Homo sapiens: one gene and its partner. The protein of the gene in region 1 interacts with the protein of each later gene in a biochemical or structural test. Each region holds a gene or a part of one and is shown in the gene's direction. Other genes may lie near its edges.

Evidence for each region.
Region 2: the proteins of UCP3 (region 1) and RC3H1 form a complex in vitro, tested with the Homo sapiens proteins (one study listed by BioGRID).

The regions. Positions count from the first base shown.
Region 1 is NC_000011.10:73,999,742-74,006,085, reverse strand, and holds the end of UCP3 (putative mitochondrial transporter UCP3), read left to right. Parts: intron 1-152; coding exon 153-356; intron 357-1,500; coding exon 1,501-1,602; intron 1,603-2,078; coding exon 2,079-2,259; coding exon of another isoform or gene 2,260-2,263; exon of another isoform or gene 2,264-4,346; intron 4,347-4,559; coding exon 4,560-4,674; 3' UTR 4,675-5,809; downstream 5,810-6,344. UniProt on the Homo sapiens protein: Putative transmembrane transporter that plays a role in mitochondrial metabolism via an as yet unclear mechanism.
Region 2 is NC_000001.11:174,012,358-174,019,392, reverse strand, and holds part of RC3H1 (roquin-1), read left to right. Parts: intron 1-7,035. UniProt on the Homo sapiens protein: Post-transcriptional repressor of mRNAs containing a conserved stem loop motif, called constitutive decay element (CDE), which is often located in the 3'-UTR, as in HMGXB3, ICOS, IER3, NFKBID, NFKBIZ, PPP1R10, TNF, TNFRSF4 and in many more mRNAs.

The DNA.
Region 1 (6,344 bases):
GAGCCAGGGGCGGGGGGAAGCTGGTACCGGACGCTTATGAGGAGGCTCTGAGTGGACATCAAGGAAGCTGCAGGGGCAGCCCCGCAGAGAACAGCATGTCCCAGAATGCTGCTTAGTAGGGGACACTGGCCCACTCTCTCTGCCCCTCCCAGACTCCAGCCTCACTACCCGGATTTTGGCCGGCTGCACCACAGGAGCCATGGCGGTGACCTGTGCCCAGCCCACAGATGTGGTGAAGGTCCGATTTCAGGCCAGCATACACCTCGGGCCATCCAGGAGCGACAGAAAATACAGCGGGACTATGGACGCCTACAGAACCATCGCCAGGGAGGAAGGAGTCAGGGGCCTGTGGAAAGGTAGGTCTGGACTCTGGACGCAGGCGGTCTTAGGCAGAGCTTTCCCTCCCCTCAGGCTGGGGCAGGGACCCCAGTAAGGAGGGGACTCCCAGCATGGCGTGTTCCAGTGATTCTGAAAGAACATCACAACCAAAGATACTTCACTGACCTGCCACAGCCCCTCAAACTCAGTTCATTTTACCAGCCCTTTGCCATGTGCAGGTTGATGTGAGGGAGCCAGAAATGAACTTAAGACACCTTCACACGCCCAGGGCATGAGGACAGCAGAGGAGATAAGATGCAGCTACACCACAGGCAGGATGTGGTAGGGGTTGCCCCAGAGGTGGAGCTCCAGAGGCGGGCTCTGCAGAGAAGGTGACACCTAAGCTGGGCCTGGAAGACTGAACAGGCTCTAGGTGTGTGGAGACGGAAGGGGAGGGGCCCTCAAGCAGGGTCCGGAGGAAAAAGAGGAGCATCAGAAAAGCACAGCTGTGAGGAGTGGGCGCAGGGAGATGCAACGAGGAAGCGCTTCCTTGGGAGCAAAGCTGGAGGGCTCCCTATGTGTCCACATGGCAGCCACTGCGATGAATGCAGGACTCTCTCCGCATGTGAACCAGAGGTTGCAGGAACGTTTGCAGAAGAAACTGACCCAGTGAAGTTTAAGGGCAGGACACCTCTTAAGTTGGGGCTCTTCACTCACTTGTTGGGCACCCTTCAGAGCTTGTCCCCTTACCTGTGAAACCAGGGGTTTGATCCTGACAGTTTCCTAGGGCCCTGCTGGCACCACATTCTGTCACTGTTCCAAGAGCTCAGCCTCTCGCTGAATGACTTTCTTTTCTGGCTGCAGCTGGGTCTCCAGGAAGCATATTTTAATTTTGACAGCTATTGCAGATCACCCTCCAAATGTGGCCAAATGAACACAAGTGGGCCTCTCTGTTCTCTGTCTCTGAGGAAAACATGGATAATCTGAGAGTTGTTAACCCTAGAAAGGAAAATGTGGAATCTGCTCAGCTGGGGTGGGATCCTCTGGCTGAGACCATTGGAATGGGGCACTATGGCCCCAAAACTGGGGCCTGTGGCCTTGCAGCCAGGGCATCCATTTCTCCCATTTCCCATTCCTCCCTCCCCACCCATTTCACATCCCTCCCCACCGCCTTCCTAACAGGAACTTTGCCCAACATCATGAGGAATGCTATCGTCAACTGTGCTGAGGTGGTGACCTACGACATCCTCAAGGAGAAGCTGCTGGACTACCACCTGCTCACTGGTGAGGCCCTGGGCTCCAGGCAGGCAGCTCTCCCTCAGCAGGGAGGGAACCCAGAACTCCGTGGAGTGGGCACCACCCAGAGGCAACTGGGTTTTAGAAGGAGCAGAGAGAGAAGCAGTGCCTAGTAAAAAGTGCCAGGTACATTGTGGTGACAAGCAGGAAAGACCCCTGGGCTGGGAGGCTGGAGACTTGGGTTCCAGTCCCAGCACCACCTCTCACTATATAGCTTTAAGCAGGGGTCTCTCACCTTCTCCGACTTCAGTTTCCTCAAACAGCCTGCATGACCTCCCACCTCTGGGTCAGCCCAGGCCTAGTTTGCCAGTACTTACCAAGAGCTTAGCCCAGGGCACTGTGAGAGATATGGAAAATACTGTCCTATGCTCAGGGAGTTCACGGTTGAGTTGGGGACAAACAGTGCATACATATGGACAGAACACAAATGCACTCCTTGATATTTGCTTGTCCTTCCTCTGCAGACAACTTCCCCTGCCACTTTGTCTCTGCCTTTGGAGCCGGCTTCTGTGCCACAGTGGTGGCCTCCCCGGTGGACGTGGTGAAGACCCGGTATATGAACTCACCTCCAGGCCAGTACTTCAGCCCCCTCGACTGTATGATAAAGATGGTGGCCCAGGAGGGCCCCACAGCCTTCTACAAGGGGTGAGCCTCCTCCTGCCTCCAGCACTCCCTCCCAGAGAACAGGGGCTTCTTTCTTTTCGAATGTGGCTACCGTGGGTCAACCTGGGATGTAGCGGTGAAGAGTACAGATGTAAATGCCACAAAGAAGAAGTTTAAAAAACCATGCAAGTAAAAGAAAAAAAGTGAACCATACCTGATGGGGAGGGTTAGGGAAGCCTGACTGAGAACAAACACTCCAGGAATAGGTAAAAGTACTGCCTGTCTCCAGAGGAAGTTAGCAATCCTGAGACCTCCTGGACCTCCTGCCATGGCCATTGAGCACCACACTGACCATGGCCAGTGCCTTCCTCACTGTCTCCACACGCTCCACGTTTTCTTGCACTTACTGCTCCCTCTGCGTGGAATGCCTCATCATCTACAGGCTGTCAATTTTAGCCATCCTTCAAGACGAGTTCAAATGCCACCTCCTCCCTAACACTCTCAGGTGTAAATTTTTCCTCCTCCCTGGGAACTTCTGCAATGCCATTTGATACCATTTTTATGGTATTTATCACCTCCTGCCTTGTATTATAGTATTTGTAAGCTTAAATTATTCCTCATGCAAAGAGCAAGTTCCTGACAGCAAAAGTGGCTCAGACATCTTTTATCTCCCACAGTCCCTCACACAAAGTGAGCACTCGATAATGCAGGTTGTTTATGATTATCACAATAGCTAAGTCACTCTATATTAGGCCTCGTGCTGAGCACTTTACACACGTTATCCCAACAGCCCCTTGAACTGGGTAGTATTGTCCACATTAACTAAGGAAAAGACTGAGTGTCAGAAAAGTTAAGTAACTTATCCAAGATCACAGGTTAAAATGGTGGAGCCATGGCTCAAACCCTGACCGTCAGACACCACACCCAACAATGTTGTTTATCCTACTGGTAAGCTCTTAGCTTGGCCCTTTCACCTCCCACTGCTGATGTCTTCAACAGAGAGTTTTTTGGTGCCCAGTGTTAGAATGGACCCAACAAGTGAACAAGAGCTGCTATAGGTTCTCAAGCCTGGGAATGACGTAATAAAACTATACTGCAATTGACAGACTGTTCTTCCAAAAAGTGCCTCTATCATTACAGTCTTCAGCTGTAGCCACTTGTCTCAGTTACTGCTTTCACTTGTCCAACATTTCTGGAGCATCTTGTAGGTGCCAGGCCCTGGGTTATGCCTCCCTCAAAGAGCAGCAGATAAGTTGGTGGTATTTACTGAGCATGTATTGATGCTGGGCCCTGTGCTGAGTGCTGTCCAACATTAACTCACCTAATCTGCACGACTAACTCCACAAGGCAGATACTGTTATTTTCCTCATTTTACAGATAAGGAAACTGAGGCTTAGAAAGATTAAGTGATGTGTCCAGATTGTAAAGCTAGAAACTGGGAGAGCTTGGATTTGAACCCAGGTCTGACTCCAGAGTTTACATTTGTTGTCACAGTACTATCGTCCCCACAAGAGTCAAGAAAACCCATGGCATGAGGTCACAGTGCCCAAACTGAGTCCTCCAGAGCAAAGAGCAACCAGCCAGGGAAGGAGGAGAGGAGGGGACAGTCCAGGCAGAGGGAGCAAGAGGAGCAAAGGCATGGAGGGAAGAGGGCCTGGCATCGTCAGGGAATGTGACTAGCTGAGTCTGGTGGGAGCAAACGGGCCCAGGAGGTGGTTAGTGGAGGGACAGGCTGAGAGAGGGGCAGGGGCCAGCTCGTGGGCTTCTCCCTGAGTTGGTGAGCCACAGCTGAGGTGGGGACACTGTGCTATGCCATCACAGCACAGCCAGCCTCTCTGGAGAAGAGCTAAATCTGGTGCCACACTGTATTCACCCTGCAAAGCCCAAGCTTCTCCATGTCCTGGCAGGGGGCCATGTTAGGGCTGGCCACCCGGGGTGTAACTGAGCCCAGAAACACCCAGCAGCAGGGTGGAGTTAGAACCGCACCTCTGACACTTACTAGCCGCGGGTCTTTGGTTGAGCTCTTAACCTCCCTGGGCCTCAGTTTGTGAAAAAGAGCCTGGCAGCAACATGGCTGCCTTATAGAACTGTGAGAATTCGCTGCCTAACACAGTAACCCGTCTCAAAACGTGAGTTTTTTTTTCTTTTCCTTACTCCGACTTCTGCCTAAATCCCCTTAGCAGAAAAAAAAAAGAGAGAGAGAGACTGAAAGGATTCAGAAAATGCTTGTGATGAACAGAAGTCTGGATCCTCTGGCACTACCACTGTGTCCCGGGAGAGCACACGCATCTGTTGTGGTCCCCTAGCACTCCACCTGATGTGTTGGTTGTTTTTCTTATCAGATTTACACCCTCCTTTTTGCGTTTGGGATCCTGGAACGTGGTGATGTTCGTAACCTATGAGCAGCTGAAACGGGCCCTGATGAAAGTCCAGATGTTACGGGAATCACCGTTTTGAACAAGACAAGAAGGCCACTGGTAGCTAACGTGTCCGAAACCAGTTAAGAATGGAAGAAAACGGTGCATCCACGCACACATGGACACAGACCCACACATGTTTACAGAACTGTTGTTTACTTGTTGCTGATTCAAGAAACAGAAGTAGAAGAGGAGGAGGGATTCTGGTCTTCACTGCCATGCCTCAAGAACACCTTTGTTTTGCACTGACAAGATGGAAAATAAATTATATTAATTTTTGAAACCCATTAGGCATGCCTAATATTTAGGCAAGAGAAAATAAACCAAGATAGATCCATTTGGACAAAATGGAAGGTTGGAGACGTGTATCCCCGTGAAATCTGGTTAGATAATGAATGATAAGCAGGAAGGATGGCAAGCACGGGACAGGAGGGGCCCACAATGGAGTGGGAGATCAGCCACGGAGCCTGGAGGGATGCCACCCAGCAACACAGAGCTGGCGACTGCAGCTGCACCATCACACATGCATCATCAGCCTATTTGTAATATGTCTGCCACAGAGAGTCCTTTGGGATTCTAGGAAACCCAAGGAACAAGAGAAAAAACTAGAGCCTGTGCTAAAGAAGCCCTGCTGGGCCCATGTGAGGCTGGGGCTCGTAAATATTCCCTGACGACACTGAAGAATCAAGAGGGCAGCCCCCACTTTCCTACAAAATGGAGGGAGCCATCCCTTCCCTGTCCACCTCACCAGGGGTGCTATGACATGCAAGTGAGAAGCTGGGCATGAACGCACTTTATAAAAGCAAAAGCTCTGTGTAAATCTAACTACAAGGACAATGCCTTGGGAGAGATTTTGTCGGGACAGAGAGGAGTTGCCAGGGAAGAAGGTTTGAAAGATACGGTTGTCTAGAGGTGAGACCAAAGGATCCAGAGACTTGGGGACCAGAGGTGACAGTGGATGACGTGAAGCCACAGGAGCCCCACCCCCATGCAGCCTCTTCCCCACCCCCCCCACCACGTGCTCAATCATGAGTACCTCAAAGGATTGTTGGGCTTGGGGGAAAAGAGGTGGATTCCTGGGCAAGAACCTAAAGTAGCAGGACTCGGAATTCTCGGGAAATTATTATGACTCAATAAAAGAATTCACACCTTAGGTGTGGGAGTAAGAACAGCCACTTCTCTGCCTTTTCTTTCTTGGAATTTTCCTTTCTCACTTCTATTTCAGGCTTTCTATGTGTCAGGGCAGGGCCAGATCCAGCCCCACATGCCTACACTTCATCTGCCCCCTCTCACCCTGTTTAATTGCAGGCAAGTAGCTTTATTTTTTTAGGGTTCCAGCTCCTGCTTCTGCAAAAGGCAGGGTTGAACCAGACGACCGACTTCCAAGCTTAAGACTGTACATTTTTCGAATTGATAATGGGGACCCAAAATGCCACTATCTTTTTCTACTTCTTGGCAGCCTTGCGTAGCTCTGATGATTGTCAGGACTGGGTTCAAACCTCACCCCATTCTACCTTACTAACCACCTAGCCACAGGGAATCCTTGCACCTTGGTGTGCTACCAGAGAAGTGGGAATAACAATCGCTGCTTCACAGGCTTGTTGTGAGGGTTGACCTAAAACTCCTTGGAAAGCAGACATGTGGTGTGCACCTGCTACCTGGGAGGCTTAAGCGAGAGGACTGCTTGAGCCCAGGAGTTCAGGGCTGCAG
Region 2 (7,035 bases), on another chromosome or scaffold:
ACACAAATTAGATTCTTTGCCACTACCACATGTGTCACAGTTAAACTTTGAAGCATCTTCTGTGTTGACAGATTCCTTTTTTTGCCTGTGAACTTACCCTATTATCATTATTTGTATCCTGTCAGATATCTACTTGTAAGACCAAGAAAGTATTTGTTCATGTGAATCACAAAAGAAACACTTAAATTTTTGTTTTTAGCATATCTGAATGCTATAAAATATAAAAACTCATACTGTTTACATAGGACAGATTTATCATACTGCTGTAATTGTTTTCATGGTTAATTTGTTACATAGGCAATTACTAAATTGTGCCTTTGAAATACTTTATAAATTTTTTTAAATAATTAAAGATATTCAATGATGTTAAAGTTGGGTCAGCTAATATTTGAAGTTCTTAATTTATAATTTTTTTTCTTTAAGCCATAGATAATTTAGAATTCTGCAGTATTTTTCATCTCCAGATCTTAGGGCTTGAAATGGATTCTGATGGGTCTAATCAGTCCACTCTTGCATATATCTTGAAAATGGTCAGCATCCAACAAAGTGAAGAATAAACTGATAAATGATCCCTGTTTGGTGAACACCTCAGATCAGGATGTTCCTTGGCAGGGTATTCTGACCTGGTTTAGCTTTGGCCCCGTCTGTGCTCAGGGTTCAGGTATTCTGCAGGATTGGGTTCAGAGGGATTAAAATTCTCAGATTGGCCTGTATCAAAACAGTCACAGATTTTGGTCAGCCTTTTCCCAGAACCGTCTCCAAGATTTTTTCTTTTGTGTAATTCTGGAATCTAGGCTGGATTTGGACTAGCTTTAGAGGTTATGATAAAAGATTAATTTTGTCAGGCATTTATACAAAGGAGGTTTTCTTACTACAGAGTTTCTTAAGGTAGATTCCTTCTATTTTTGAAGTGTGACATTTACCAATCTGAAGTAATGTTGCCCTACATCCCCCAGACACTTAACTTTAGCATATTTATTTCTGTCCATTTTTGGTCAGGATTGTGCCTGTTTACTTATATAATATTCTTGTTTACTTTTTGTTTATTAGATACTTCTTATTAGTTTATATTGTTTTCCTGATTGAGGCTTGGGGAAAGAATTTTCCTCAAATTTAAAGTCACCTTACTTATTTGCAGATGTATGTCAGAGCAATATTCTTTTGACAGTTATCAAGCATTTTAGCAATGCTGTATGTATATATTATGAATGAATGACAGAGTCACTCATGGTCTGTCACCCAGGCTGGAGTGCAGTGGCATTATCATAGCTCACTTCAGCCTCAAACTCCTTGGTTTAAGTGTTATTCCCGCCTTACCTGGCTACTTTTTTTAATTTTTATTATTTTTATAGAGATAGCATTTTGCTGTGTTGCCCAGGGTGGTCTCAAACTCCTGGGAGCAAGGTGATCCTCCCACTTCTGCCTCCCAAAGTGCTGAGATTACAGGCATAACAATGTTTTAAACTGACACTGGTATACCTTCACTGATTATTACTGTGCACATGTGGTAATAATTTAACTTATAAGTGCATTTTATCTAAAAAATTTCCAAGATCTAAATAGCATTTGAACATGGTAGCAGTTTTTTTTTTTTTTTTTTTTTTTTTTTGAGCAAGAAAAGAGTTCTAAAGGGGTCAGTTTTATCTACAGATTAACATAATTTTTTTTATTGAGGTTAAGTCACATAACATTAACCATTTTAAAGTAAACAGTTTAGGTGGCACTTTATACATTCACAATGTTGTTCAACCACCAGCTCTAATTCCAGAATGTGTTCATTACCCCAAAAGGAAACACTGTACCCATTAAGCAGTTACTCTGTATTCCCCTCTTCCCTAATCCCTAGCAAACGCCATTCTGCTTTCTGTCTCTAATTTGAGCCAACATCGAGGAAGAGTACTCTGTACAATTGAAATTGCAGAAAAAACTTTGGGATGTGATTGTTAGGAATAAAAAACCACCTAATTCTTTGCATGCTTCTCTAAGTACAGTAGACATGCTGCCAGGGACTCTTTATGGAAGAAAAGTTGAGACTCATAGAAGTTTGCAGTTTTGTTTTGATCACCCCAGAGGGTTTTGCTCAAACTCTTAGACTCATTTGTATTTCTTCATTGGGTTATAAGAACTAAAATTTAATGTTCTATACAAATGTGAACAACTAATACTTGGTCTCCTATCTAGAACTTGTTTGCCTTTTAGGTTTTCTTAATGTATAGAAGAAACTAGGAATATTCACAAAGGATTTATTTGAAGTTACACTGGGAAACGATTTTTAGAATTTGAAGCTCTTTGATCCCTGTGAATCTAACTTTATGACTATTTTATTCAGCTAATCTTTGAGAATATTTAGAGTTTTGATTTGCGTGGCACTCTGCTTTTAATCCCTTGTTGAATAAGTGTTAGAAACCTTGATCTTGGCCCTATACCTGATCACCTCTAAAAACATGAACAGTGTTACAAAGGCAGTTGTTTAGTAAGCTTTTTTGGATTGTTTTAATTGGCTGACTGAGGGAGACAAAATTAGTTTTTTTTTTTCTTTCTAGAATAAAGGGTAATAAACTTGGACTTTAGAGTTACTGCTAAGATTGACATTTCCATTTGGGGCTTTAGAAATATATTGTTATCTTAAATTCAAAATGGTACTTTATCTAATTGAATTGAAATCTTAAAATTTATGAGAAACAAAAGTCACTTTATGTTCTTAGTAAATATTTCTAATGGGGTTATAGGAGATCTAAGTACAAAAAAAATTTAAAATTTTGTTATTAATCTCCCCTCCTTAAGGAAAATTTTATTAATATACATAATTATAATTTAGTTATAAGAACAACTTAAGTTGAGTACAGTGGCTCAAGCCTGTAATCCTAGCACTTTAGGAGGCCAAGGCAGGAGGATCTCATGAAGCCAGGAGTTCCAGACCAGCCTGGGCAATAGAGTGAAACCCCACCTCAAAAAAAAAAAAAAAAAAAAGGAAACTTAAAAAATGATAAGGAAAAGGATTATGTCAGAATATTTAGAACTCTGCAGTAAAATTTCTGGTTTTCTGTAATTTTTTTCAGGAAAATGTCAACTTTTTGTAAATACATGTTTCTGTGTTTTTATATATGCCTCATTAATTTTTTAGACTAACATTTAGTGGAAAGCTAATGTACTCAATTAATACATTTAAATTATAAAAATAACTTTTTTTTTGAGACGGAGTCTTGCTCTGTCACCCAGGCTGGAGTGCAATGGCATGATCTCGGCTCACTACAACCTCTGCCTCCTGGGTTCAAGCAATTCTTGTGTCTCAGCCTCCCAAGTAGCTGGGATCACAGACTCATGCCACCATGCCCGGCCAAATTTTGTATTTTCAGTAGAGATGGGATTTCACCACGTTAGCCAGGCTGGTCTTGAACTCCTGATCTCAGGTGATCTACCTGCCACGGCCTTCCAGAGTGCTGGGATTACAGACATGAGCCACTGCACCCGGCCGAACTTTTATCTTGAAGTAGATAGTGTCAACAAATACAAAAATAAAAATAATGTCTTTAAATGAGGTGATGTTTAGAGCTATATCCATGAAAAATATGGGATAGGCTAGGAGGCGGTGACTCATACCTATAATCCCACCACTTTGGGAGGCCGAGGTGGCAGGATCACTTGAGGCCAAGAGTTCCAGACCAGCCTGGCTAACATAGTGAGACCCCATCTGTATTAAAACATATATATATATATATAAAATATGAGGCCAGGTGCAGTGGCTCACGCCTGTAATCCCAGAACTTCGGGAGGCTGAGGCGGGTAGGTCACAAGGTCAGGAGTCGAAGACCAGCCTGGCCAAGATGGTGAAACCCCATCTCTACTAAAAATACAAAAAAATTAGCCGGGCATGGTGGCAGGCACCTGTAATCCCAGCAACTCAGGAGGCTGAGGCAGAGAATTGCTTGAACCCAGGAGGCGGAGGAGGTTGCAGTGAGCTGAAATCATGCCACTGCACTCCAGCCTGGGCGACAGAGCGAGACTTGTCTCAAAAAAAAAAAAAGTGTAGTGGAAAACTTTTGAATGAAACAGAATCACTAAATTCTTAGCTTTATTATAGAACAGTATTTAATTTGTCCAGGTCTCAGTTTAGATTAAGAAGTAGGCCAAAAAAAAAAAAAAGGCCTATAATTATCAGAAAAATTAATGAACTAAATCATCTGCACTAACATATTGGTTTAGAAGTTCTCTTGCTTTGTACATAATTCAAGGAATTTGATTATCTATTTTCTCGTCCCACAGCAGATTAAAAGGTGCAAATTAGATGTTGGAGTAGAGCCATATAGGTAGGATGGAGGGCCAGCTGGGTGGCAGGAAAAAAGTCACATTAGCCTGAGGCTGTTTAAAATAGGGACAGCAGTTACCTATACAACACCTCATTAGACTCTGAGTATATCATTAACTGTTATATTGTGCTATATATAAAGTATTGCTCCTGATGGAAAATTCATTGTGGGAAAATTATGTTTGTAATTTTGGGAATCATAAACATATATACAGTAGAGTGGTGTATATTAGAATATAGACCTCGCTAAAAAAAATAGAACATACACTTTGGAGTCCAGTATATCTAGGTTCTCATCTTCTATGACTTAAGCATTATAATTCCTCATCTCTAAAAACAGAAATGGTAATACTTTTATCTAAAGGTTGTTTGGAAATGTAAATAATAATATCTTTAGTATAGTACCTGACACCTTTAATGAATGTTATTTTCCTCCTTAAATTCTGTTTAACAAAAATTAGAAAGATATTCATCCAGAATATTTTTGATCAAGTTCTACTGTAAAATGTTAATATAGAAGCTACATATAAAACCTTATATAGTTTAGGGTTAACTGTATGTGTACTTTTGGGAGTGGTAGTCAGAAATGAAGTAATTCTTCATATGCCATTCTCATTTTCTTCCCACATCAGTCTATTTATATGGGCCTATGCTGTTCAATACTGGCCACTAACTATATGTGGCTATGTAAATTTGAGTTTTTTGAAAGATTTTTTTTTTTAGAACAGTTTTGGATTTACAGAAAAATTGCTCAAAAAAATACACAGTTCCCATTTATACTGTCCCCCACGGTTTCCTCTGTTAGTATCTTGCATTAGTGTGGTGTGTTGGTTATCACTGAGGAACCAGTGTTGATACATTATTAACTAAAGTCCATAGTTCACATTAGGATTCACCCTTTGTGTTGGACAGTTCTATGGGTTTTGCCAAATGCATAACATTATACATCCACTATTCTAGAATCGTGCAGAATGGTTTCATTGACCTAAAAATGTCCCATGTTCCACTTACTCATCTCTGCCTCATCCCTCTGAACCTCTGGCTACCACTGATCTTTTTACAGTCATAGTTTTACCTTTCCAGAATGTCATGTGGTTGGAATCATAGTATATAGTCCTTTCAGACTGGCATCTTCACTTAACAATATGCATTTAGGTCTCTTCGTCAGTATCTTCTTCTTTTGTTTTTGTTTAAAATAGAGATTGGTCTTGAACTCCTGGGCTCAGGCAGTGCTCCTGCCTTGGCCTCCCAAAAGTGCTGGGATTATAGGCGTGAGCCACTGTGCCTGGCCCTCTTCATGTCTTTTCATGGCTTCACAGTTTATTTATTTTACTGCTTAATAATATTCCATTGTGGCTGAGCATGGTGGCTCACGCCTGTAATCCCAGCACTTTGGGAGGCCAAGGATCACGAGGTCAGGCGATCAAGACCATACTGGCCAACATGGTGAAACCCTGTCTCTACTAAAAATACAAAAATTAGCCACACGTGGTGGTGTGAACCTATAGTCCCAGCTGCTTGGGAGGCTGAGGCAGGAGAATCGCTTGAACCCAGGCGGCGGAGGTTGCAGTGAGCTGAGATCGCGCCACTACACTCCAGCCTGGCGACAGAGTGAGACCGTGTCTCAAAAAATATATATATATAATAATAATAATATTCCATTGTATGGATACATTTAAATTTTATTTAAAATTTAATTCCTCCGTCTCACCAGCACATTTCAAGGGCTCAATAGCCACATGTACCTAGTGGCTACCATATTGGAAAGCACTGATATATATGATTCCCCCAAGGTTCAATTCTCCACTTCCATTCACTCTCATGGAGAACTTTCCTGTTTATATGATCTCAGTTTTTCCTCAAGCCTACATTTTCAATGCATTATCTATTTTGTTTTGTTGCTTGTACTATCAGCAACCCTCAATTGGTTATTTAAAATCCTTTACTCCCCCAAAGAACCATTATTTTCAAATGTTGTCCATTATAGTATGGTTTCCTAGGTTTTCCATCACAGCATCATCTCTTTTTAGTCTGCTCTTCTTTTTTTTAATTTTCTAAAATTTTATTTTGTTTTTGATCCTTCTTTTTTTAAAGAATTTATGTTGCAGCATTCTATAATAGTCTGATCCTTTTTGTCCTTAAACTCTGGAATCATCTTTTTGTTTTTTATTTTCCTCTAAACCTTTTGAATATTTAGCAGAGGTGTGCAGATCTCAGCACTAATAAATGGCAGAGTTGGTATTAGAATCTAGATCTCCTTATTCTAGTTCTTTCTTTTCTTTTCTTTTCTTTTTTTTTTTTTGAGACAGAGTCTCACTCTTGTCGCCCAGGCTGGAGTGCAGTCGCGTGATCTTGGCTCACTGCAAGCTCTGCCTCCTGGGTCCACGCCATTCTCCTGCCTCAGCCTCCCGAGTAGCTGGGACTACAGGCGCCCGCCACCACACCCGGCTAATTTTTTTGTAGTTTTAGTAGAGACAGTGTTTCATCATGTTAGCCAGGATGGTCTCGATCTCCTGACCTCATGATCCGCCTGCCCCGGCCTCCCAAAGTGCTGGGATTACAGGTGTGAGCCACTGTGCCCGGCTCTAGTTCTTTCTTGGGATCACCACTATTTGGGGCTACTTTTAGAAGTTATTTTGAAGAGGGTATTGGAGACTGATTATGTATTATGTGATTTAAAATATCTTTATAAGTTAAATCTATAGAAGCTATAGCTATAGATTTCATAA